5 separate regions of the Homo sapiens genome follow, and all the other regions are reported to be linked to region 4. The links are microRNA targets in miRTarBase. Many come from high-throughput screens and were not tested one by one. Region 4 holds a microRNA gene; each other region holds the end of a gene's coding sequence.
The links. The annotated mature microRNA hsa-miR-6089 reads GGAGGCCGGGGUGGGGCGGGGCGG and lies in region 4 at 1,456-1,479, shown strand. An mRNA with a match to its seed (bases 2 to 7 or 8) in the 3' UTR can be bound and repressed. Matches are read on the target gene's strand: a 7mer-m8 pairs with bases 2 to 8, a 7mer-A1 pairs with bases 2 to 7 and ends in A, and an 8mer does both.

Region 1 (4,110 bases), not on the chromosome of region 4:
ACTGCAGAGTGCAAACAAAATTTTATCTGACTTACAGTAGCATCTGACTTAATAAGAAAACAAAAGGATTTGAACACATTGGATTCTAAATAACCAGACCAGTTCAGATGCTCCTTTTTGTTCATAGTGTTCCATCATTATTTTGTTTCTCCAGCAATTTTAGTGGCAGGAAGTAGAATCACAATGATAACGTGGGAATTATTTTAACATGGCTTTGGGACATGGCATCGGTAGAAAGCTCATCTGACAGAATTAAATAAATATATTTCTGATATTTGTGGGAAAAAGACTATCGGAATTACAACAGTAGAATTTACCTTTTAAAAGGGGTTTTAATGAATTAACAGTTTTGATCTAAAATCTGGGAACTAACCTAATTTGGGGACAAGAACCTGTATTTCCAATGTGGCTGTGGGACATTTTTCTTTTTCCTGATCTCATATACAGTACCCAAACAAATAAAAACTTTAAGGATGTCTTACAGTATTTTTTCTTTCACTCAGCTTCTTACAGCTGCAGCTTCAGTTACTATAATATACTCTACACACTTCAAAATTACATAGGAAATACCCAGAATAACTAAATAAATAAAAGGCTAAAGAAAACTGGAACAGTACTGCGTCTCCATCTGAGACGCAATCTTCTACTTCCAGCATCGCAGAGAAGGGCTAGGACAATTTTTTTTCAAAAGATTTATATACAGGCTTGAATCCAGAAATTAAGGTTAAAAGCATAAATATTGATAATTTCAACTAAATTCAGAATGGTTTCAGAAAGATATGATACAACAATTTAGAATAAAACAAAGCAGAAGAGCATCATATTTTGGTTTGCTTGAGATATATATAAGGTGCAACAACTTTTTCTCTTGAGGATGCTGTGGGACAAATGTTAGTGTAGATGGTATCTGCTGGCAGATTAAAGTACACACTATAGCAATATGATTTTCCAAAATAAAAAAGAATGAGAGAAATGAAATGAAAATGATAACAAAAGGTGGGGTGGAGAGCACTAATATTGGTCTGAAATATTTGTGCTAACGAATGTTGTTACCTGAAAATAACAACACTCCTCTCCAGCAGTTTCAGGGCATGAGAAGCACAATTATTGAAATCAAGACTTTACTCAGAGAATCGACAAGGTGAGTCTAAGGAACTATAAAGCTTTGCAGGATTTCTGCTACTCTCAGTGCCTAACCGCTTAAAAATTAAGCATTTCTACAAAAAGGTTTGTTTTAAAGTATCTGAAAACAGTCATCTCCAGTAAGTTGCCCTCCCACCCCCAACCCTGCCTAAGGGAAAAGCCACTGAGGTTTAGGAAAAGCAGATCAAGTAAGATATTAATCACATAGAAAAAAAGTAATCTTTTGTTTTGCTTTTTTTTTTTTTAAAAAAGGTCCCAGGAATATACAGCAATCTCGTAAGGAACTCTAGTGAAATGTAATCGGAGGACTGAAGGAGGGTGCTCTGGCAAAAATAGATCTATTCTAACGTGTTCTATAGAATAACAAGTTAGTACCATTGTCAAGGTGCATGTTCCGCACCATACAATTTTTGTTGTTGGTTTTTTGTTTTGGATTTTAGCTAATTATAATCTTCAAATCACTGCTAGCGAGTGGTCCAAAACTCCAACAGCCACCAACATCGGGACCCAGCAATTTCAAACATTCACTTTTTGTTTTGAAATTTAGAAAATATTAATAAAACAGCATCATAGTAAAAATATTATGCAAAAGTCTGGAACTGCTCACTTGATTTATTCCTACATGAATGGGGTTAAGTTGTAACGTTTGATTAACCTTTTACTAATGCCTTCTTCCTCCATCCCCACCAGGAATATGCATTTTTGAGCACATCATTCCGATGCTTTGCTACCCTCTTTACCTGCTTTGGAAAAAAAAACAAGAAGAAAAACCTCTATTTTTTTTTCAATCCTGTTAGTATGTTGTACATATTTTCCAGCACCGGAACTGAAGTAATATCTACAACCATGAGAAGCTAAACCTAGTATGAATAGAGTCATTTTTTGTATGGCTATTACGTCAAATTACAATTAGAAAAAAAATCATTACAATTCAGTCAAGTATAAATAAGAAAGCTAGATAAAACCATGTAAACTGTCACCATTTAGAGATCTAATTCAAAAGCTTCAAACTCGAACTAGCACTGTCAAAATTCCGCCAGTTTGAAAACCATTAAAAATTATTGCTGGAATCCAATAATTAAAATTTGGTAGTTTGTGCTGTGACGCAAGAGTGGGGAAATACTTTGTGCTATAGAACAAATACCCTGTAAAATCTGTAGCCTCAGACTAATTTTGATTTATCACTTTGCATCTGTTGCTAGGAAACAAGACACTGTGAATGTCAGGTGGTTAAGTCAATATGTTGAATGTTCTAAGCCAGTTAATCCACTTGGCGCTGCTTATGTATGGTTGGTTTTATGTTCAAAAGCAACAAAACACAAAAAGGAAACAGAGACTTGCAGGTGGATCTATGACTGAGAGTCCCACTCTGGTCAGGCATACCTCCCTCATCATTGACTCAGTACCTCCTAAACAACACAAACTCAAAATGGCTCTAAAAACCTGCAGTGCCAATCAGGCTGTGCATAGCAATTGCAACCCGTCCAGCCAATCTGTGATGGATGTAAAAGGTCTGTAGCTCCAAGTCCACATGAAGTGAGTGTCTTCAATGTGTTTAGAATAGTGAAGTAATACTAAGGTCACTTCTGAATAATATTTTTGTCTTTTTTTTTGTTTGTATGAACAATCCATTGGTCACTTAGACCCCTATGTAAAAATAAAAGAATCCTCAAGGCATGAAAACACCAGTAATCTGTAATCTGCAGGACTCTTCCCCTGTCTGGGAAAATATTTGCCACAATTTGCCTCAAGCAAATTCTTCTTGGTCACTCAAGGCTAAGAAAAAAATTCAGATTGTAAGAGTTGTAATTTTTTCTCTCTCTCTTTTTTTTTTTTTTTTGCCAGCAAACTACCATTCTGGTGGCAAATATAAAAGTGCAGAATATATGGACCACGAGGCCGAGCATACACCACTAACAATGGTACATCTGCCTGCCCAGGCTGCTTGGGAGTCTCTGGAACAGGCTTTTTAATATTTATTCTACAATATAAATGTAGGTATAACCTATTATATAAACCATCTTAAACTTAAATCTCCATGTACAAAAAAGACTAAGAATATCTAATAATAACTAGTGCAGTGCGTCAGTTTTTGTTTTTTTTTTGTTTTGTTTTGAAAGAATAACTAGGTAATATATGAAACTAGTTTCACACTCTCTGGTTGGTAAAAGAGATGCTGGGTGAGCTACAGTAAAGGCAGCCTTTTACCAAGTTACCACCTATTACCGTCAAAAGCCTTCAATAGAAAGCAAAGCTCCAGGATCATTCTGTTTCTGCTCAGTATCAGACAGATAACCTTACCCTCAAAGATTCTGGGTTCTGAGAGAACAAACTGGCCCAGGATGCTAACTTCTGCTTCAAGTGAATCTGGGCCGTGTGGGGCAACAAGCACTTGTTTGCAGTCTATATTTTCCACCACTTGGACTCACTAGCATCCCTCGGTAAAGACAAGGCTAGGGTAGTAGGTAAAGCACAATGTTTTACAATGAAAGGGCGCTTCACTGGTCAGCGCAGGAAATAAGTACAGGAGCCTGCGGCATTTCTTTTGGCTGTCCATCATGGGTGAGCGGAGTTGACCTCTGACCTCTGTAAAATAAAAGGAAGAAAAAGTCACTTATTCAGCATATGTTATTAGAGACAGGAGAGGACGATGAATAACAAGTGTGTTCCAATATCTTGTTTAACAGTTACTGCTGTTACTTACATCATTTAATGAAAACTGTTTTTGCTTTAGAGTTTTTTCTCTTCTGTCCCCTTCCTTATCCTTTTTTTCCCCTTCCTCCTTCCCATTCTGTCTCCCTTCCTAAGATTTTATATCTGAATTCCCCTCATACAACTCAACAGCATACCCTCTGGCCTCAAACAACTAACCACTTCCATTTTGAAGAGATGAAATTTTAAGTACCAACAGATTTGGGGCAACTCTTTAAGAAGTGGGAAAATTTCAATCAAGGACTGGGGTTCTTG
Region 2 (4,116 bases), not on the chromosome of region 4:
ATCACGCCATTGCACTCCAGCCTGGGCGACAGAGTGAGACTCTGTCTCTAAATAAATACATAAATAAATAAAGCAAGCAAGCAAGCAAGCAGAATTTGGTGTGAGGAGGAGTTATCCTCATATTTTTCCAGTGGGATTTACTTACTAAATAAAAAGAACAGGAAGGTAAAATCTTCTCATGTATTCCCCCAGGGGAACAATATTTGAGGTTCCAGTGTACAGTTAATTCTTTAGACCTTTCTGGATGAACTTATTGTTAGGTTATCTTAACTGCCAATTCAGATTTAAAATATCATGCCATTTTCTGCATGAAAATTGCCTTATTTTTCATGCTTAGATTATTTAGCTTAGTGAAGCAGTATTTTAAATCTAAATAGAGACTTTGGGTTAGAGGCATGAGCTGACAAACTGAATTTTAAACATGAGATTTGCTGACTAAAAACTTGATGGTTTTCTTCATGTTTGTTTTTCACTTTAAAATGTTTTGCCTTTCTTCCTCACCCAGTTAATACACTGTTAAATGTGAAATTAAGTGAGACAGAAAATGGCAAGCATGTCTCTATATTGGATCTACCTGGCAACATTCTTATTATCCCTCAAGCTACCCTTGGAGGAAGACTAAAAGGAAGAAACATGCAATATCACTCTAACTCTGGAAAAGAAGAAGGGTTTGAACTTTACTCTCAATTTGTGACTCTATGTGAAAAAGAAGTAGCTGCTAATAGCAAGTGTGCTGAAGCTAGGGTTGTAGTGGAACATGGCACTTATGGGAACAGGCAGGTGTTAAAGCTGGACACCAACGGACCATTCACACACTTAATTGAGTTTTGAAAATGAAAAACTAGTTTCTATAGCTGTTTTCTGGTATGAAATGATCTAAAGTATAATTAGATTTTCTTCCCCTTAATCTTGAATATACTAATCTTCAGCATTTTTAGACAGGAAAATCTTGGGTTTCATATATAACTCTGCACCTGCTAATTGGATGACTTTGCCAAGTCACCTAAACTCTGGATCTCAGTCACCTTTTGTCCTACATTCCTCTACCCTTCTACTTGAAAATTTGAAATATGCTGTCTATTCACTTCATAGTCATTAAGGAAATGTTCTTAATTGTTTTTTTGTTTTTGTTTTTTTTTTGAGATGGAGTCTTGCTCTGTCGCCAGACTGGAGTGCAGTGGCGCAATCTCGGCTCACTGCAACCTCCACCTCCTGGATTCAAGCGATTCTCCTGCCTCAGCCTCCCAAGTAGCTGGGATTACAGGCGCATGCCACCATGCCCAGCTAATTTTTTTGTATTTTTAGTAGAGATGGGGTTTCACCGTGCTGGCCAGGATGGTCTCGATCTCCTGACCTCGTGATCCGCCCACCTCGGCCTCCCAAAGTGCTGGGACTACAGGCATGAGCCACCGTGCCCGGCCTCTTAGTTGTTTTTTAAAAATTATGTACATTTTAAGTATTTTGCAATGAAGAAATTCATGCAAACAAGAAAAACACATTTCTTATACCATCAAATTTGTGTAGCATGTAATAAAAATAACTATTTGTATTAAAATTAGGTAAACTTCAGCACAACCCAATTATAACTTTGTTAATTTTGTTTACTATTTCAGTTTTCTGTATTTCCATATGTAAGTCACCATTTCTTTTAATAATATGCATGAAAATGTAATATAGGGCCAAATGTGGTGGCTCATGCCTATAATCCCAGCACTTTGGGAGGCCGAGGTGGGAGGATCACTTGAGCCCAGGAGTTTGCGACCAGCCTGGGCAGAATAGCAAGACCCAGTCTCTAACATATACATATACATATAGATATATATGTAATATAGAAGGGTTATTGTGTGTTATATTACTTTCCAGGGACATTCAAATGTTTTACATTACTTTAAGAATCTTTACTTGATATAAGAACAAAGTATAAGGGTTTAAAAGTTGTTTTTATTAAACATACTATATAAATGGGTTAATGGTCTATTTTTCAGTTTTTACCAAAATCATGTGTCTCACTTTTTGTCTTCGCTTTTTAAAGAACTGGTTCATGAAATTAGTGTTAGTTCATAAATTGTTTAAGAAGTTCCTTTTCCATTGAATTAGATTGCTGTAAAAGGGAGAAAAAGGGAAGCTTCCCATAAGAATAGTTTGAAAACAAATTGACTTGTTCATTTCCATATTATCTGCTTGATGATATGGAGCCAGTGTCAATTTTTCTGTTAGTGAATGTTTTGGACTAGATGTTCCCGTCCCCAAAATTTATATGTTGAAGCCCTTATTAATGTGATGGTATCTGGAGATGGGGCTCCTCCAACCATCCCATCCTGGAACATATAAGCCAGAAAGAAAGTAGTCTCCAGAAACAGACCATGCTGACACCTTGAGTTTGAACTTCTAATCACCAGAACTGTGAGGAAATAAATTTCTGGTGTTTAAACCACCCAGTCCTATGGTATTTTGTTAGGGCAGTCTGAGCTACGACAGTGATATAAGATAGACAGCTAGTAAGGTAAACTTTTCAAAGGCAAGAGAGGAAGATATACAAGAAATTGAAAGAATAATTAAGTCAGTAAGAGGTAATATTCAGTTTTGGCAAACTCCTCTGACTTGAGTTGAAAATACTTTTTTTTTTTAAGAGTAAAAACCAAATAACTAATTCTAATTGGCAAAAAAAGGTAAATAAATAAACATCCTAAGTAGCTGCTGAAATTTCCGTTGTGTCTTATAGTTTCTTTAGGTCTGTGTTCCTAAGATGCTTAAAATTTTTATCATGAAAAATCCTATTTTCTCTATACCCTTCCTGTACTGTTCTATTTTGGAACCAGAGAATCAATAACTGGCTTGGTAATGAGCTCATTGTCCTTAACTTTTGCTTTATTGATTCACAATACACTTACTGAAATGTAATAAACTATTCATAAACTTGCAAACTCCAGTTGTCTCAAAGTTTCTCCAAAGAGGTATGTACATATTTCAAAAAGATAATGTTACCTATTTTAAACCATTTTGATTTTATGTCTAGGTGAAATGCTGACTCATAGCCCTTGATTGCTGTTTTAGAGTTTAGGCAATCCTCTTTAAAAAATGTGCTTGAGGTACCTGGGGAGAATAACAATTTCAAGTACATGAAGGGTTATTAAGCAGAAGGTGATAGGCATCTTTGCTTAATTTCCAGAGAGGCTACAACAAGGGAAAAGGCAAATGAAGTCGTGGATATGAAAATAACTATACCTTGGCTTTCTGTAGCTCTTCTGGCCCAAGGTGCTCAAAGAATCTTCAACAGATATTTTATCTTCACAGTATATGTATGATGAGGATAGCGCTGTGGAAAGTAAGACAATGCTTAAGGAATTTCCCCAAGGTCACACAAGAGGGAGGACTAATTTCTATTTTCTTGACTTTCTTGTAGTGACAGTTGTTAAAAATTGAAATTGGCCTGGGCGCGGTGGCTCACGCCTGTAATCCCAGCACTTCGGGAGGCCGAGGCGGGTGGATCACGAGGTCAGGAGATCGAGACCATCCTGGCTAACATGGTGAAACCCCATCTCTACTAAAAATACAAAAAATTAGCCAGGTGTGGTGGCGGGCGCCTGTAGTCCCAGCTACCTGGGAGACTGAGGCAGGAGAATCACTTGAACCCAGGAGGCAGAGGTTGCAGTGAGCTGAGATCGCGCCACTGCACTCCAGCCTGGGCGAGAGAGCAAGACTCCGTCTCAAAAAAAAAAAAAATTTTGAAATTGATCTTGATAAAGACCTAGCATCTCTCAATGTGGATCACTTGAGAAAGAATAGCCAATAAATTGGTTTATTTTCTAAATTAGGAGCAGACAGGATTGCACCTAATTTAGGTGCTTTCTGCCTCTGTTTTCCTAAGATTAAAGCATGTTTCAAATAGAATATCTAAATACAGGTACTATTTTATCTGCCAATTTAGAAACCTCTGGATTCAATTATAGAAAATACTATATTTTCCATTGTGTATAAGACACAATGGATATGGTTGTAATAGCTTGAGTACTTTCATATAAAGTAAAATCAAACATACTTTTACCATTCTTTCATGAGTTCAAGTCATAAAAGAAGGTATACCATTTATTTCTGAATAGTATCTGTACTAGTGAT
Region 3 (4,116 bases), not on the chromosome of region 4:
CTTACTGCCAGCAGCACCGGCTATCACGCATGTGAGTGAGTGAGCCTCACTTCTGCCATGTTCTATTCATCAAGACAGTCACATGAAGTCCTACTGAGTTTTGAGGGCAGGAAAACTAGTCTCCATCTCTTGATGAGGAAGCGATAAGGTCTGGGAGAGCAGTGAGGCTAGAAATATGGCATTAGCTATTTTTGGAAATTATGCTGATTTTTTTTTACTATTTTTGTAAGTAACATTGCATTTCTTTAGATTCCCTTAATATTTACTGCTGTCTACACCCTTCATGCTTCTTGCATCTTGGAACTTTTAGCTGGGAGATCGCCTTGCTTCCACATGAAGTAAAGCCCTTTTCTCTATTATCTATTGGTGGCAAAGTCTCCTAAGTTATTTATTTATTTATTTTTTGAGACTATGTATTTTTTGAGTCTATTCCTCCCCAGACTGGAGTGCAGTGGCACCATCTTGGCTCACTGCAACCTCTGTCTCCCAGGTTCAAGCAATTCTTCTGCTTCAGCCTCCCTAGTAGCTGGGATTACAGGCACTCGCCACCATGCCCAGCTAATTTTTTGTATTTTTAGTGGAGATGGGGTTTCACCATGTTGGCCAGGCTGGTCTTGAACTCCCGTCCTCAGGTGATCCACCCACCTCGGCCTCCCAAAGTGCTGGGATTACAGGCGTGAGCCACCATGCCACATTGAAAATATTTTATTTGCCTGGTGTAAAATTCCAGGTTGGTAGTTACTTTTCTCTTGGCAAACTGGACATGCCATTCCCGTCTTTCCGCATCACTGTCACTGAGGAGAGCTGGCAGGCAATCTGTCTCTGGCTGTCTTTGCCATCTCTTTGTCTTTGGTGTTCTGCAATTCACCGTAACGTGTTTAGGTGAGTTCCCTTTTATCTCACTTGCTTAGAACGTGTTTGGATTTCTTCAATCTGAACTGGTGAGTTGGGGAACCCTCCTCCTCCCTCCTCCCAGGCTTTCATTCTTGTCCCTTCCCTGGCATTGTCCTCACAGGGCTTATACTTCTGAAAATAAACACCAGGAGATGTGTTCAGGCAAATATTGCTTTCTTCTGCCCCGTGACCCTCACTCTCCAGCCAAGGGGACACCCAGAATGACTTCCTGGAACTGGGAAAGAAAAATTATCTGGGGGTGAAATACACATGGTGCCTCAGGAAGAAGTCCTCCTGCCCTGTGGGGTCTGTGCGGAGGCTGCAGGGCTGGCGCTTCCCATGAAGGCCACAAAGGCCCACTGTGTGCATCTCGGCCTCACTCGGCCTCAGTGAGGTCACACTGTGAGCCTGAGAATTTGAGCGGCATTCTCTGCCCCCAGAGCCAGCTGTCAAACATTTACCAGCACAGCACCAGGCAGGATCCACGGCTAATGGCAGCAGGGGTGGGAAGAGCTGAGCTGAAGTTCAGAGCTAGGATAAAGCCAACAGGAATCCCTCTCCTTTGTCAAGTTTATTTTATTAAAATATACAGGACTGAATATTAGTGGATGCTGAGAACAGGAACCACCCTCCCAGGCCGTGGCCAAGGGAGACGCTTCTGCCATGCAGACATGCGGCCGGTCTGTGTCCCAGCGTGGGAGGCAGACCCCTCCTGGTTGGGCTGTGCAGCCAGTCTGGCCCCAAGGCCAAGGCCGGCAGGGGTGTGGTGGTGATGCTCTCCTGAGGCCTTGGCCTTAGAGGCAGAGTGACACCAGCTGGGAGGGCTGGGCAGCGGGTGAGGGGAGGGAGAAGATCCCTGAGCCAGGGAAAGCTGATGCCCTCCTGGAGGCAGAGGCCCCCAGTCAGCCTGGAGCCTGGAGCCAGGCGTCCATGCAGCTCCGCAGGGGAGGCCAGGCTGTGTGTGAATGCCGAGGGGCCCCCATGGCCTCCGCCATACTGCCTTTCCTCTGAGGGCCCTGCTCACCCTGGGGCTAGCCTCTTGGGGCACACGGGGACTCCCCGGGCCAGCCCTGAGTGGAGCTGGGCTGGCTGTGATGGAATGTATTATGTGGGAATGTTCCTGGAGGGGCCATGCGGCCTGGGACCGGGTTCCTTCTGGGTGAGGCCCCAATCAGGCGGGAGCAGCATCTCTCTCCTCCTGGGGGTTTCTGCTGACCACCCAGCCACAGCCCTCTCAGCCCTCACCATTGGCTCCAGCTTTGGGCTGGCATTCTCCATCCCCAGATGGAGGGGACAGCCAAGCAGAGTCCCCAGGGTTTGTGCTTTTGAATGTTGGTCAGCCGGGCTGGGCTTTGGGGCCCCACTGATCCCAGGCACAGAGCAGACCCCCAAGGCCTCTTCCCCAGGGCCACCATATTGGGGCTACTGGGCCCAAGCCTCAGCCAGCAGGAGGGCCTGGCCTCCGAGAAGCAGTGTGCTGGGCTCCCACTAGGGCTGCGCCTGAGCTGCTAAGGAATGCTTGTGCTTTTTGTGCAAGGCAGAGGGACGGCGACACTGCTTCAGGAGAGGGGGCTCAGCCAAGCTGCTGGGCCATGGGAGGGGCACTACAGGAAGAGGAGGGACACGCCCCTTCCCAGACTCCTCTGAGCTCTGCCCCGGGCTCCCTGGCTGCCAGTCTCTGAACCACGTTCCTCCCGGGACCTAAGAGGACCTTGGAGGGAACAGTCTGTGCTGGAGGGTGTGTACAGCCCCACCCACTGCATTCCCACTGAACCAGGACTGGGGCAAGGAGAGGCTCATCCCACCCTGTGGAGCTGGCAGAGAGTGCCCTCAGATTCTCCACCACGACCCAATCCCTAAACTTGAAATCCCCCGCCTTCCTGCCATGGAGGGAGAATGGGGCCCAGTGGCCCCTCACCACTCAGGCTTGCCCCACAGTGGGTGGCCTGGTACCCAGCTCTTCCAGGTCAGTGGAGTAGCAGGGGATCCTGGGACCCCCAGGGAAGAATTTCCAGAAAGCTGCAGGCTTGGCCTCCATTACCCCCTCTCCCCCCTGCCCCCCAGCTGGTCCCTCTGGGGTCCTGAGGTGAGGGGCTTTCTAGAAGCATAGGTAGTGGGCAGAGAGTGGCTACGGGGAGGAGACCAGGGGAGCCTGGGGCCGGCCCACTGTGTGGCAAGAAAGCAGAATGGAGAACGGGACGAGGTGGGCTCACACCGGAGATTGGACCCTCCCCTGCAGGGGCACTCGAGCCCCTTCTTGGTGACATCCAGCAGCTGGTGGCCTGCAGACCTGCTCTGTCAGCCACTCACCCAGAGGCAGCCTCGCCTCGCTGGCCTGGGAAGGGCTGGCTGGGGCTCCTGGACTCGGCCCCTAGCCAGACTCAGCCCCTCCCTGAACTCTGTCCCCTCTGCCAGCCCAGATGAATGGCTGTGTGTGTGTGTGTGTGTGTGTGTGTGTGTGTGTGTAGCAATCTGTTCACTTTTTGCAAATCTATTTTTTAAAAGTTTCTTGGAGGCTGCTCCTGGCAGGATGGAGGTTTCTTGGGGGTGGAGGTGGCTGTGGCCATGCACTCCTTTGGACGTGTCCTAGATGACATTCTCAAACAGCTGCATGGAGCTCATGATGTTCTCATCCTGCATGGAGAGAGGAAGGGAGGCCTTCAGGTGCTGGGTGGGCTCCAAATCCGACCCCCTTGAGCAGATTCCCGCCAGGGACTCGGAGCCTGCAGCGACTGCCTGTCTGTCTGTCTTATTGGGTGCAGGGAGCTGGGGGACAGGGAGGTGAAGTAGCTGGTCCGAGGTCCCCAGCTGGTGAGGCACAGCCTGTCTTCAACCCCACTCCTGACTGCAAGCCCATCTGGGATGAGCTGATGAAGGCGATCCCGGCTGGCCTCCAGAGGAGGTGGGCGCTAACCAGGACTGCTCTGGGAGTGGGGCAATAGAGGCGCTGGAGGCCCAGCATCCTGCCCCCTGAGGTGCTCTCTGGAAGGGCCAGCAGCAACACTGCGGAAGCTCTGGTGCCTCCCCACGGTGACCCTCTCCCTCTGGCTGGCCCCATGTCTGCCCCTAACTTGAGGTTCTCCAGGGACTGGGCTGAGGGAGGGTGTGGGGGTAGTGGGGGGATGCTGTGGGCTGCAGGGGTGGGTGGGGAGGAGGAGACTCAGACAAGAGGGCAAGTGGAGCTTGGGGCTGTCCAGGAGGTGGCAAGGGGCCAAGGACAGC
Region 4 (4,116 bases):
GATACCTTTGCTCAACGTGTTCTGCCATGCTTAGAATACAACTTCTGGCCGGGTGCGGTGGCTCATGCCTGTAATCCCAGCACTTTGGGAGGCCGAGGTGGGCGGATCATGAGGTCAGGAGTTCGAGACCAGCCTGGCCAACAAGGTGAAACCCTGTCTTTACTAAAAATACAAAAAGTAGCCTGGCATGGTGGTGCATGCCTGTAATCCCAGGTACTGGGGAGGCTGAGGCAGGAGAATCACTTGAACCCGGGAGGCGGAGGTTGCAGTGAGCCAAGATTGTGCCACTGCACTCCAGCCTGGGCCACAGAGCAAGACTCCATCTCAAAACAAACAAATAAACAAACAAACAACACACAGACAACTTCTATCCTGTAGGAGACTTCCTGCTTCGAACTGGCTGCTGGGACTCCAGCCATCACGTCATTATCCCAGGCAGGTTCAGGATGAAGCAAAGACCAAAAAAAAAAAAAAAAGAAAGAAAAAAGAAAAATGATTCTGCCTCCAGGAGTGGAGTGCATAGTTAGACTGCTGCATTCCTCAAACCCCTGAGGTGGGCCCCAGGGTGCGGGGCCAGCCCCTCTGGCCTTGCCTGTGTCTGATCCAGGGGCACAGGTGGCCTGGGGAGAGACGGAGTCACCCGCAGGCCTGAGACAGCACAAGACCAGTGTTACCGAAGGGCCCCTGACGCAGCCTGCTGGGGTGAGTCGCCAAGGACCAGGACTCAGCCAGGCGACCCAGATAGGGGTCTTACCCCCAACCCCAAACCACGACCACAAGTCCTCACTCCCAACCCTGTCTCTGAGCTTGCGGCAGAACGTCCTTGGTCCCGCGCAGAGCGGGTATCCGCAGTGTGTCTCAAAGCCCCCCACCCCCGCCATCTTTCACCACTGAGCGCCCCCAGCTCGGACGCTCCAGAAAGGACCAGGGGCCGTGGCTGCCTGTCAAGGCCTACGCCTTTCTAAGCAGGGAGGGGATTGCACTTTGCACCCCTTGGGGATCGCCCTGAGCGCCCCGTGAGCAGCTGGAAGGGGGCCCCATAGTTTTCCGAGCAGAGGAGCAGGAAGAGTTTCATTTCCTCCCCGTTGGGGCTGCCTGGGGGGGGTGCCTGTTAGGAACAGAGAGGGGACAGCAAGGGCGGGCGCGGAGAGGCCCACACCTCTCCAAGAAGGGCAGCGGTTTCTCTTGGCTCCAGGTAGGGGCCGCCCTGGGGCGTGCATTTAAGGGGCTGTAGAGAGGGAGGGACCCGCACTTTCCCGAGAATGTTGGGGGTTTCACTTTGCTCTAGTTGGCGGCATCCTGGCGACGGGCTTGTGGGCGGGGGGCACTCACAGTTTCCTGAGAAGGGAAGGAGGGCGTCCCGTGGTCCCCTCGGCGCGGCCCGAGCCACCTCCGCCCGCCCCCTCCTCTGTCCCCTCCCCGGGCCCGGCGTTCCCTCCCCTTCCGTGCGCCAGTGGAGGCCGGGGTGGGGCGGGGCGGGGCAGGCGCAGCCTGGGCTGAGTTTGCAGGGCTGCTCCCCTCACCCAACCCCTTCGAGTCCTCCGCGGGCTCCGCCCCACCCGGCCCGTGGGGGAGGTTCCGTCCCGCCGCCTTCGCCCGCGCGCTGCACTCGCGGACGATCTCTGCTCGCCTTGGGCGCGCCGTGGCGCGCGGGGCCGTGCTGGCGCTGCGGCTCCTCGGCCTGCTCCGCCGTCTGGTGGCCGCCCCGGTGAGCGAGCGGCGGGATCCGGGTGGGAGGACGCGGGGGGTGGCGCGGGCTGGGCCTGGGGATCCGCCTGGGGATGTGGGGTGCAGGGGCGGGGCGCCCCGCGGGGACACCCGGCCCCTCTTCCGTGCCCGGCGGGACGCGCTGTGCCCACGGGGACCCAGGTCCGGAGGAGGCGCCCACTTTCTCCCCAGCGCTCTTCCTGGGGCCAGGTGGGAGCCGTTTCAGAGGAAAAAGCCAGCGTTTCTTTCGTAAACCAAAAAGTATCTGGGACAAGTCCCAATCCTTTTGAGTTGATTCGGCGAAGATCAGGAAGGAGCCCGGGAGACGGGTCTATGCCTTTCTCCAAAGATACTATTGAGAGCTTCGGTATTTAAAGGGGGAAAGCACGCTGGAGGGGAAAGAAGGAGGAAGGCTCATTTTACCGAATTCACCTGTTGCAAAAGAAAAGCAGCAGGTAGAATAGTCAATTATGTATTTGTCTTGCGCTCACTAAATTGGCACTTTACTAAGATAAGGTCAACAGAGAGTTATTGCACTGTCTGCTTGGGAACAGAAGGAAAGACAGCTTCCTGCCTGACTCAGCTTCCAGCTTTATTATTATTATTATTAATTATTTTGGCAGAGTGAACTGGGGTTCCAAGTTTTAATTTTCCTTCTACAGTTTGCAGAATCGCAAACTCTTAAATTTAGGGGAACCTGGGGAAGAGGTGGCATCCGATTCCCCCCCAACCCTGGTGACGTTCTTATGGATCTTATGGATACTGCAGTCTCTCTTCTCTTTCTGTCTCTCCTCTCTTCTCTTTCCTTTCTCTCTCTCCTCTTCTCTCCCTCTTCCTCTCTCTCTCCTCTCCTCTCTCTCTCTTCTCTCCTGTTCCCTCTCTCTCTTCTCTCTCTTCTTTCTCTCGCTTTTCTCTCTCCTCACTCTCCTCTCTCCCTCTCTCTCCCCTCTTTCCTCTTTCTCTCGCCTCTCTCTCACCTCTCTCCTCTCTCCCCTTTTCTCTCTCTCCCCCTCTTCTCTCTCTCCCCCTCTTCTTTCTCTCCTTTTCTCTCTCGTCTCTCTCTCCTCTCCTCTCTCCTCTCTCTCTCCTCTCCTCTCTCTCCTCTTTTCTCTCTCCCATCTCTCTCTCTCCTGTCTCCTTCTCTCTTGTCTCTCGCCTTTCTCCTCTCTCTATCTCCTCACTCTCTCCTTCTCTCTCCTCTCTCTCTTGTCTCTCTCCCGCCTCTCTCATCTATCTCCTCTCTCTCTCCCCCCTCTCCTCCCTCTCCTCTTTCTCTCCTCTATCTCCTCTCTCCCCCTCTTTCTCTCTCCTCTCTCTCTCTTACTCCCTCTTTTTCTGTCTCATGCTCATCTTTTACTGTTTTCACCTGAGGGAAGAGTGATGAGAAGATAGGAATTCACGTTTTCTGAAGTATTTAGAAACGTGGGGCCGTGGTGTTTTCTCCACCTGTTTTTGGGTCATTCCTTCCTCATTTCTCAGAACATTGGTATTAACAGCTCATTTCCCTCCTTTAAGGGCTGACTTTGACTTAGCGATGCCTTTCCTGATGGAGGAAACAGTGAGTAACTTTTTAAAGTCTCCTCTGTTGCTGACTTTGCTGATTGTCATTGAATTATTATCATTTTCAAGACATCTCTTTTGCGTGATAAATGGATTGAGTTTGGACAGTGGGAACATAGGAAGTATATGTGTTGTTTATTTTTGTTGTTGGATTTTTGATATATTTTTTTTTTGTTACCAGCATGCTGGTTTTTTTGTTTTTTTTGTTTTTTTTTTTTTTTGAAGTGTAGGTTCAGAGTCTCACTCTGTGGCCCAGGCTGGAGTGCGGTGGCGCGATCTCGGCTCACCGCAACCTCCGCCTCCTGGGCTTAAGCGATTCTTGTGCCTCAGCCTCCTGAGCATCTGGAATTACAGGCACCCACTACCACGCCCGGCTAATTTTTGTCTTTTTAGTAGGGGCTGGGTTTTGCCATGTGGAGCAGGCTGGTCTCTAACTCCTAAACTCAAGCTATGCACTCACCTTGGCCTCCCAAAGTGCTGGGATTATAGGTGCAAGCCATCACGCCCAGCCAGTATGCTGGCTTTTATTTTAAAATGGTTAGTCTTTGGAACAACGTAAGGCAAATGTGACTCCCTTGGCCAGGTCAGGCCTCGTGGGCATAGATCTGCGCAGTCACACAGGGACCTGTGCACACAAGGGTGCCATGCTGCTTTATTGCTGTGTTGCTGCCATCTTCAGATTCTTCATACAGTTGGAACAATGGGTCGCACATTTTCATTTTCACAGGCCCTCCCAAATTCTGGAGGTGGTCTGCACACCTGGTTTAGTTTTCTTTGAAAATACTTGAAGTTAAATCCTGTACCTGGAAGACAACAGAAGGGAATTGGCAGGAGGCTACGTGTATGGGT
Region 5 (4,116 bases), not on the chromosome of region 4:
ATAGGGCGAGTAGAAATAATAGCAGTCTGGTTAAAGGCAATATTTATATGCACAGATGTATAATTATATTGTGTATGTACACATAGGGCAGACATTACACATTAAGAATCAGGGAACTTTACTCTGTAATTTTTAGCTGGAGTTATGACTTCCTGCCACTGACATTAAGGCTGACAGATGAGGCTCTGAAAATGCCACAGATTTAAACGGATGGAACCCGAGGGCTTTAGCTGAGCTGTTCCTTGAGCCCAGCGGGACGGGGTAGTTACAACATGCAGGCCATCACCTACGAAGGCCTCTGCTTCCAGCCGTGGCAGCTGGCCTGAAGCCTTTTGGGGTAGAGCCCAGCTCTGCAGAGGGCGGGGAGTGTGAGGACCCCACCCTTCCTGCCAGCCCCTCCCTCACTTACTGGCAGCACACCTGACCCTCAGCCATACTGTCCCTGCAGGGGCTCGCTGGGACACCCAGACTGGAGTCATCGCTGAAGCGCGGCTGAAAGAGCTGACCCCGGCCATGCCTGTCATCTTCATCAAGGCCATTCCTGTGGACCGCATGGAGACCAAGAACATCTATGAGTGTCCCGTGTACAAAACACGCATCCGCGGCCCCACCTATGTCTGGACCTTTAACTTGAAGACCAAAGAGAAGGCAGCGAAGTGGATCCTGGCAGCCGTGGCGCTGCTCCTACAGGTTTAGCTCGCTCCTGCCTCACAGCCCACACTCCCTGGGGCTGGACCACAACTCAGCCCTTCACCTGTGCACCTGTGACTTATTCTTTACAGGAACTGGTGGTGGTTTTTCGTTCTCTTAAATAATCAGGTGCTTTGTAACCAAGCACATCGGAACCAGAGGGTGGAGGTTGGTGTGGAAGAGGTGGGGCAGATTAAAGCCAGTGGAGCCACTCAGCTGTGCCCATCCATTCTGTGCCTGATGGCCACTGTGAGGCCTGGTTCAGGCTTTGGGGAAAGGCCCCAATTCCCAGCAGCCAGAGGCAAGCATTCCAGGAAGTAAATCCCAAATCCTGACTTCCCGGGGGGGTCAGTGGAGTTTGCTTTTAACAGGAGCAGCATGTGGGGTGAGGGCTTGGCACTCACACCCTCTGGCCTGATGCTTCATGCAAACCACCTGCCAATGAGGGGACAGGGCGTTACCCCATACCAGGAGCTGCCGCCTCCACACAGCGTCTCATCCGCCATTACTCCCTGCTCCCAAAAACAACAGGACCTTTTACAAGTAAGGAAACACACCCAAGCCCCCGCCCCCAGAGTCTAGAAGAACAAGCCGTTCCCACAAGCAAGCCCCGGACCTGTAGGACTCTGTGGCTGGGCTGATGCAGGACACGGCAGTGAGGTGGCCAGGCTAGCTAGGGCAGCAGGGTGCAGGCACGAGGGGAGAGAATTAACTAGCAACCTGGGGGATGAGGGGAGACAGCGGCAAACGTCAGAAAAGACGGATCCCAGGGGGACCAAGACAGGATCAACATTTTTTTTTTTTTTCGAGGGAGAGTGAGAGTTTCACTCTTGTCGCCCAGGCTGGAGTGCAATGACGCAATCTCGGCTCACGTTGCAACCTCCACCTCCTGGGCTCAAGCGATTCTCCTGCCTCAACCTCCCAAGTAGCTGGGGTTACAGGCACCCACCACCACACGCAGCTAATTTTTTTATTTTTAGTAGAGATGGGGTTTCACCATGTTGGCCAGGCTGGTCTCAAACTTCTAACCTCAGGTGATTCACCAACCTCGGCCTCCCAAAGCGCCAGGATTACAGGTGTCAACCACTGTGCCCGGCCCTCAACATTTCTCAGGCTTCAAAGAAAAGCAGGCCGCTGCAGCAGCTCACGCCTCTAATCCCAGGACGGCAATCTTACTTGAGCCCAGGAGTTTAAGACCAGCCTGGGCAACGTGGCAAAACCATCTCTATCAATCAAAAATACAAAAAATTAGCTGGGAATGTTGTATGTGCCTGTGGTCCCAGCTACTCAGGAGGCTGAGGCAGGAGGGTCGCTTGAGCCCATGAGGTCAAGTACGCAGCGAGGCATGATCATGCCACTCACTCCAGCCTGGGTGACAGAGTGAGACCCTGTCTCAAAAGGGGGAAAAAAGGCAAACACACCCATTAGGAATATCGTTCTACGTTCAGCTTGATCATCAAGTTTTGCAAAAACATTTTTCCAAGTTTACTCACCTAAATCATGGGTTAAGAAGCATCTAGAAAGTCCAAATTCTGAGGGTAATGATTCACAACAATCTTAGCGCCCAGTAGGGCTATCGGAGGGAAAAGAAAAATCCTCCCCTCCTGGCGCCCAAGGAATCCAGCCCTTTGTGGCTGCAGAGAAGGGAAGCAGTTTCAGCCTCCCCCAGCCTGGCTGGGCCAATACCTCTGCTGGCCAGGAGGGGTCACTGCAGCCCTTCAGGTGACCAGGGGAGCTAAAGCCACCAGGGGCCACCGGGCAACTCACTTCAGTCCCTGGTAATAACCACAAAATGTGACGTTTTTCCATTTTGCCTTTAGATCCTGAAATAAGAAAGTAATCTAGTCCACACATACATATTGTGGGTAGTTGACAAAATTATCTCTAAACTTTCCAAGAAATGATTCGCACTTAAGCTGCACTCCAGCGACGGGGAACACAGGGACTGGAACACGACAGCCCCGCGCACCTAGAAAGCCGGGAGGACTGCGGCGGCCGCCGCCCGCCGCCCGCTGCTCTCTGTTGCTCCGGCTGCTTTGCAGAGTTAGGGAGGCTTGGTGTGGGGAGCTCCTCAGGGAGAACCTGCCTAGGACAGCCTCGAAGGTCATCAGCAGAGACAGAGGGAGCAGTGTGCGCTGCGGGAACGGCACTGCAGATAGATTGCTTAAGCCTGGCTGTGGCATAATGATATTTACTCTGGTCCCACAGAATCTGGAGGAATGCGAACTCTGTTTACCGAGAGCCTCTCTCCAAACAGAAACCCAGTGCCCCTGCACATTCCTTTGGCTCCTCCAGTCTAATTGTCCCACAGGACACCGTAATAACTAGTTGGAAGGCAAACAGTGTTAACTGATGTGATGTGCTGCTGTCCAGGGCACTGTGGCCAGGCCGCCGCTCCACCTATCCCCAGCCACTCAAACTGCAGGTCTGCCTGGTGCGGAAGCTGCAACTGTCCTTGTCTAAGACCAGGTGAGCCTATGCAACCTTTCAGACCCCATGAAGGGTGACAGTGACTCCTGCCAGCCCTCGGGAGGGAAAGGCGAGAAGCTGCTTCTAGAGAGGCAAAGTGCAGGGACTAAATCTAATCTCACTCCCCGAAAGGACAGGCTGCCATGCCCTGTAGCCCAGGAAGCTTCTCTCTGTGCAAGGGTCAAGCACCTGAAGATGATAAAGAGATCAGGCAGTGAGGTCACAAAAGCAGCTCCTGGAGACACTGGGGGATATGGAGAGCTGGCTTTATAAACACACATGACATGTATTCAAAATCCCCTGCTACTAGGTGACACAAAAATGTTTTAAGTAGATCCAATAAAAATAAAGTTCATTCTTCAAAAAATAAATTGCTAGGGAAAAAACAATCACAAGGTGTAGTCCTTAATTGGACTTCAAGTCAAATAATCGAAAAAATTAATTTTAAGGCAAGTGGAATTGTGAACACCATTTAGGTATTTGATGATACTAAGACATTCTTGGTAATTTTTGTTTCAGGAGTGACACTGGTGCTGTTTTGGTTAAGTACACATTTTGGGGGAAGACAGCAGGATATGCACGTTATTTAGAAATACGGACACGTGTGCACATCAGAAGAAACAAGCCAAGAGTGGCTGCCTGGGGGAAGGGAGGGCAGGAAATGGCCGCAGTATTGTTTTACTCTCTACATTTGCACACACTATTCAAATAAAATGAAAAGTAATTAAAATAACTAGGAAAAGCTGCAGATAAACTACACATTTTTAAACAATGAGACTTAGCAGAGCACTAAGGTGCCAGGCACTAAGGGAGCCCACGCTGCACACATGAGATGCCGGCACTAGCGCATGTGCCGGCCACATGGGTCCTGGCTCATCTTTGACTCCTCACCGTCCCTTCCCCACAAGCCACCATCCAAAGGCCCAGCCATCCAAAGCAACAGAACTACCCACAACA

Region 1: miRTarBase lists BBX as a target of hsa-miR-6089. Seed matches in the 3' UTR shown: 7mer-m8 at 3,039-3,045.
Region 2: the mRNA of DTD2 is a reported target of hsa-miR-6089. Seed matches in the 3' UTR shown: 7mer-m8 at 1,373-1,379 and 7mer-m8 at 1,417-1,423.
Region 3: miRTarBase lists KCNIP3 as a target of hsa-miR-6089. Seed matches in the 3' UTR shown: 7mer-A1 at 2,055-2,061 and 7mer-A1 at 1,676-1,682.
Region 5: the mRNA of DNAH17 is a reported target of hsa-miR-6089. The part of its 3' UTR that is shown has no 7-base or 8-base seed match.

Annotation. Positions count from the first base shown.
Region 1 is chr3:107,804,989-107,809,098 of GRCh38, reverse strand. BBX (BBX high mobility group box domain containing) reads right to left here. Exons shown (of 18, transcript NM_001142568.3): 18 at 1-3,729. The coding sequence ends at 3,642. Among named protein-coding and RNA genes, the nearest start is that of LINC00635, 71 kb to the left of the region's middle.
Region 2 is chr14:31,444,844-31,448,959 of GRCh38, reverse strand. DTD2 (D-aminoacyl-tRNA deacylase 2) reads left to right here. Exons shown (of 3, transcript NM_080664.3): 3 at 506-2,924. The coding sequence ends at 831. It overlaps HEATR5A-DT (HEATR5A divergent transcript), which reads right to left. Exons shown (of 4, transcript NR_110045.1): 3 at 3,226-3,316. Among named protein-coding and RNA genes, the nearest start is that of DTD2, 11 kb to the left of the region's middle.
Region 3 is chr2:95,383,414-95,387,529 of GRCh38, reverse strand. It overlaps KCNIP3 (potassium voltage-gated channel interacting protein 3), which reads right to left. Exons shown (of 9, transcript NM_013434.5): 9 at 1,453-3,528. The coding sequence ends at 3,481. Among named protein-coding and RNA genes, the nearest start is that of FAHD2A, 17 kb to the left of the region's middle. RefSeq lists a silencer at 1,535-1,829 and an enhancer at 1,263-2,163.
Region 4 is chrY:2,607,774-2,611,889 of GRCh38, forward strand. MIR6089 (microRNA 6089) reads left to right here and starts at 1,418; the gene lies at 1,418-1,481. It overlaps LINC03112 (long intergenic non-protein coding RNA 3112), which reads right to left and starts at 1,467. Exons shown (of 2, transcript XR_001756051.3): 1 at 1,333-1,467. It also overlaps the pseudogene CD99P1. RefSeq lists an enhancer at 765-1,289.
Region 5 is chr17:78,420,486-78,424,601 of GRCh38, reverse strand. It overlaps DNAH17 (dynein axonemal heavy chain 17), which reads left to right. Exons shown (of 81, transcript NM_173628.4): 81 at 449-905. The coding sequence ends at 696. It overlaps PGS1 (phosphatidylglycerophosphate synthase 1), which reads right to left. Exons shown (of 10, transcript NM_024419.5): 10 at 1-541. Among named protein-coding and RNA genes, the nearest start is that of PGS1, 44 kb to the right of the region's middle. RefSeq lists an enhancer at 1,473-2,052.